Linked DNA regions of Homo sapiens: region 1 is linked to region 2. The links come from fine-mapping of genetic effects on gene expression. Tissue or cell type: lung. Region 2 holds a variant in brackets; the other region holds the start of a gene. All regions are shown on one strand. Distances are between the middles of the regions.

Evidence for each region. PIP is the estimated chance that this variant, and not a neighbour inherited with it, causes the effect.
Region 1: SYT3 starts here. The variant in region 2 is fine-mapped to the expression of SYT3 in lung (GTEx, PIP above 0.99).

What each region holds. Positions count from the first base shown.
Region 1 is chr19:50,638,253-50,640,933 of GRCh38, forward strand. SYT3 (synaptotagmin 3) reads right to left here and starts at 1,629. Exons shown (of 11, transcript NM_001160329.2): 1 at 1,538-1,629; 2 at 773-910. RefSeq lists an enhancer at 940-1,234.
Region 2 is chr19:50,610,850-50,613,530 of GRCh38, forward strand. No RefSeq gene overlaps it. Among named protein-coding and RNA genes, the nearest start is that of SNAR-F, 7.2 kb to the left of the region's middle. The variant G/C (reference allele first, on the strand shown) is at 1,069.

The DNA of each region.
Region 1 (2,681 bases), 27 kb after region 2:
GCATTTTAGACAGTAGGAGCAGGATGACAGGGGCTTAGGGTAGGAAAGCAGTTGGAGGGTCCAGGGACCAAGGAGGCCAGACTGGGGTAGACGCGGGGAGGGCCAGGAGAGAAGGATGGATGTGGGTAGAGAGATTGGAGGTGGATAGGTATGGTGGGAGCTGGGGGTGGAGAGGTGGAGATGCAGAGATGGGGACCAAGTTGAGGGAGGGAGAGATACAGGGAGGGGAGACAGAGATAATGTGAAGGGCAGACTGAGGCTCCGAAGAGATGGAGAGGTGAACAGGCAGGCAGAAGGAAAGTCAAGGATTGAGACTTGGGATGGACAGTGACAAGGAATGAACCGAGATGTAATTAATTCACGGGGGCTTGAGAGACGAGAGGACGAGAGACGGTGAAGAGGGGCAGGCAGGAGTGTGGGCAGAAATATCTTTGAAAGAGAAACGGTCGAACGGGAGGATGGATGGGTGGGCAAGGACAGCAGATGATGGCTAGAGATCGCAGATAGACAAAAGGAGACAGGAGGGCTGGGCAGACAGACATGGGTTCATAAGGGAAGGTTCAATGAGCACATAAATGAGAGGAGGCTAGGAAGGAGAGGTGGATGTGGGGAGAGGGGGAATTAGTGACACATGGCTCGGAGCCAGGCATCAAGATGGGTTGAAGGGGATGCAGGGGAATTAGGAACAGACAGACCAGGGCTCACAGATGGACAGGTGTCGTGGGGGTGCTGCAGAAGGCCAGGACTCCAAGACAGGCATGGCCACACTCACCTGCGCTTATCTCTGCCGTGTCCTGGGTGGCAGCCGAGGCGGCGGCGGGCGGCAGCCCATGGGGGTTCTAGGGCGGACAAGGGGCTGTGGACCCGTTCCCACGCGCCGGGTAATGAGAGAGAATGTCTGATCTAGGGGCTGAGGCCGGGAGAAAAAGCTCAGCTTAACAGTCACATCTTGCCCTACTCGAGCCAGCTGCCCGACCCCAGGCGACCCACTGGGAGCCCGGCCACCCCCTCCCACCTCCGGGCCCCCAGCTCCCGTTGAGGGCTTAGAGACTACAATTCCCGGCAGGTCTCGCGCTCGCGCTGCTGCGGCTTCATAGACCCGGCGCTGCAGGATCTGCTGGGAGTTGAAGTCCTTAATGCCTCCGGGCTGCAGAGAGGATGGGATTTTTTTTTTTTTTTTAAGGTTTTGGGGGGTTAAGATGCTGGGGTCCCAAGACGCTTCAGGGGAGGGGAACGATGTCCGGGACTTCGAAAAGCCACGGAGCCCTAAGTCCTTAGGGGCCACGGAATGAGGAAACGATCCCCCCGCGCTGGGGATCGGTGGGCGAGGGGTGGGATACACCCAGGTGTTTCGGGACCCCCTTCCAGGGCCACGTGCCCCTCCCCCGGGGTGGCCAGAGAGCGCTGCAGCGCTCCCACTCCCCGGCCCGAGATCCACGCGCCTCTGCATCTACCCCGCCCCCATGCGCCGGGGCCGACCCCAGGGATTTGACTGGGGCTGGGGCTGTGGCAGGAGGAGGGGGAGGAGCGGACTCACCCGGAGCCGCCGCTGCCGCCGCTGCCGCCGCCGCCGCCGCCGCAGCCCCGCGCGCCAGCCGCGGTGCCGGCTCGGCTCCTCCCCTCGCCACTGTCGCAGGTCCGCGGCTCCTCCCCCTGCACCCCCTCCTTCCCCCACTCCGAACCCGCGGCAAGAAAGCCGAAATCACTTGGCCTCAGCAAGGAAGCAGGGAGATTGCCCGGGACTAAGGCAGCAGAGACCCAGTGGGTTTCCACACTGGGGACCCAGAGATCTAGGATCACGACGTGCTGCTTCTCCAGGGTCCGGGGGCCCAGTTCTCCGCCCCGCTATCTCACAGAGGTAGAAGTCCGGGGACCCCAGGCCCCTCTTCCCAGGAACCCAGGACTTCAGGCCCTCCAACCTGAGCCGCTCTGAAGGCCGGTGGTAGGAGCGGAAGCTGAGACTCAAAGGTACAGTGCCACAGCCAGGATAGAGGTACTAGCAGGGACCTGGGTTTGAATCCCACCTGGGCCAACTCCTGCCTGTGTGCGCCTCTTGCTCTGAGGCCCCGTTTCCTCATCAGCAAAATACACACCATAAACTTATTTCCTAAGGGATCCACAGTTTGAAAAACCGGTCAGTGTAGACAAAACATTGGTACCAACTAGGTACTTAATGAATATTTCTCAAAAGTAGTGAGTAACAGTTTCTGGTATATTAATAGCAGTTAATGGCAATTGTCATTTCCTATAAGTGGTGAAGTGCTAAGTGCTTTGAAAGCGTTTTCTCATTTAATTTTCACTTGGGTGCAATTATGACATTCCCATTTCACAGAGGAGACAACTGAGGCCCATGGAGGTTAAATCCCTTGGGTAAGGTCTAGATCAGGGGTGTCCAATCTTTTGGCTTCCCTGGACTGCATTGTTGTCTTGGGCTACACATAAAATACACTAACAGTAACAATAGCTGATGAGAAAAAAAAAATCACAAAAAAATCTCATAATGTTTTAAGAAAGTTTACAAATTTGTGTTGTGCCGCATTCAAAGCTGTCCTGTGCTGCATGCGGGCCTCAGGCCATGGGTTGGACAAGCTTGATCTAGATCTACATAGCCTGGAGAGGTGGCTCGGAGGCCCCCTCAGTGCTCTCAATCAGTGACATCCAAATAAATACAACCTCTAGGT
Region 2 (2,681 bases):
GTGGATGTAAGTTTTGAGCTCATTTGAGTAAATACCAAGGAACATGAGTGCTGCAATATATGGTAAGAGTGTTTAGTTTTGTAAGGAAGTGCCAAATTGTCTTCTAAAGTGGCTGCACCATTTTGCATTACTGCCAGAGATGAATAAGAGTTCCTGACGTTCCTCATCCTCATCAGCACTTGGTGTTATTCATGTTTTGGATTTTCACCATTCTAATAGGTGGTTGTCGTATGTCATCGTTGCTGTAATTTGCAATTTCCTAATGACATTTGATGTTGAGCCCCGCTTTTTTTTGGAGACGGAGTCTTGCTCTGTCGCCGAGGCTGAAGTGCAATGGCATGATCTCGGCTCACTGCAACTTCTGCCTCCCAGGTTCAAGTGATTCTCCTGTCTCAGCCTCCCAAGTAGCTGGGATTACAGGCATGCGCCACTACGCCTGGCTAATTTTGTATTTTTAGTAGACATGGGGTTTCTCCATGTCGATCAGGCTGGTCTCGAATGCCTCGCCTCAGGTGATCTGCCCACCTTGGCCTCCCAAAGTGCTGGGATTACAGGTGTGAGCCACCACGCCCGGCCCAAGTACCTTTTATTTATTTGTTTGTTTGTTTATTTATTTATTTTAAGAAACAGGGTCTCTGTTGCCCAGGCTGGAGTACAGCAGTGCAATCATAGCTCACTGCCGCCTCCAACTCTTAGATCCTCCTTCTCAGCCTCCCCAGTAGCTGGGACTACAGTTGTGTGCTGTCACACCTGGCTATTTTTTTATTTCTATTTTTATTATTTTATTTATTTATTTATTTAGAAACAGGGTCTCGCTCTGTCATCCAGGCTGGAATGCAGTGGCACTGGAATCTCTGCTGACTGCAACCTCTGCCTCCTAGACTCAAGTGATCCTCCGACCTCACCTTTCCAAGTAGCTGAGACCACAGGTGTGCAACACCACACCTGGCTAGTTTTTTGTATTTTTCGTAGAGATGGGGTTTCACCACGTTGCCTGGCTGGTCTTGACCTCCTGAGCTCAAGGGAATTACCAGCTGTGGCCTCCCAAAGTGCTGGGATTGCAGGTGT[G/C]AGCCACCACATCTGACCTTTTTATTTTTATTTTTTGTAGAGATGGCGTCTCAGTGTGTTGCCTAGGTTGGTCTGAAACTCTTGGCCTCAAATGATCCTCCTGCCCCAGCCTCCCAAAGTGTTGGGATTATAAGCGGGAGCCACCACACCTGGCCAACTATCTTTTTATTTACTTATTTGCCATCTGCATATCTTCTTTGTTGAAGTGTCTGTTCAGATCTGTTCCCTATTTTTAAATTGGGTTGTTTGTTTTCCTATTGTTGAGTTTTAGTTCTTTGTATACCAGCTTTCTTTTTTCTTTTTCTTTCTTTCTTTTTTTTTTTTTCAGACAAAGTCTTGCTCTGTTGCCCAGGCTGGAGTGCAATGGCGCAATCTCAGCTCACTGCCACCTCCGCCTCCCAGGTTCAAGTGATTCTCTTGCTTCAGACTCCCGAGTAGCTGGGATTACAGGCGCCCACCACCATGACTGGCTAATTTTTGTATTTTTAGTAGAGACAGCATTTTGCCACGTTGGCCAGGCTGGTCTCAAACTCCTGACCTCAGGTGATCCGCCCACCTCGGCCTCTCAAAATGCTGGGATTACAGATGTGAGCCACCACACCTGGCCTGGATACCAGCTTTTTGTCTGAAAGGTGTTTTGAAAAGATTTTCTCACAATCTATAGCTTCTCTTTTTGTTCTCTTAAACATCTGATTTTCCTATCACTCCTCCCCATGCAAAATATACATTTTTTAACTGGATCTTGCCAGGGATTTCAGAGTGAGAACAAGAGTCAGACCTGGCCAATCTGAGTGCTTCATGACCTTGGTTATGATGTGCAGTAGTTTGGATGTATGTCCCATCCAATTTTTTTTTTTTTTTTTTTTGAGACAGAGTTTTGCTTTGTCACCCAGGCTGGAGTGCAGTTGCACAATCTTGGCTCAGTGCAACCTCCACCTCCTGGGTTCAAGTGACCCTTCTGCCTCCGCCTCCTGAGTAGCTGGGATTACAGGCACATGCCACGCCCGGCTAATTTTTGTATTTTTAGGAGAGACGGGGTTTTCCCGTGTTGGCCAGGCTGCCTTCTAAATTTCGTTGTTGAAATTTGATCCCCAATGTTGGAGATGGGGTCCTAATGAGAGGTGTTTGGGTCACAGGGGTGGACCCCTCACAAATAGATTAATGCCCTCCCTGGGAGTGTGGGTGAGTGAGTTCTTCCTCCATTAGTTCCCATTAGAGTTGGTTGTTAAAGAGAGGCTGACACTTGCCTCTCTTGCTTCCTCTATTGTCACGTGATCCCTGCTTTCTTTCTCCTTCCACCAAGAGTAGAAGCAGCTCAAGACTTTCTCTGTATGCCCAATCTTCCAGCCAGAAGAATCATAAGCCAAATACACCTTTTTCTCTTTATAAATTACCCAGCCTCGTGGATCACTTTAGGTCAGGCGTTCGAGACCAGCCTGGCTAACACGGTGAAACCCTGTCTCTACTAAAAATACAAAAAATTAGCCAGGTGTGGTGGCGGGCACCTGTCATACCAGCTACACTGGAGGCAGGAGAATCACTTGTACCTGGGAGGCGGACATTGTAGTGAGCCAAGATTGCACCACTGCACTCTAGCCTGGGTGACAGAGCAA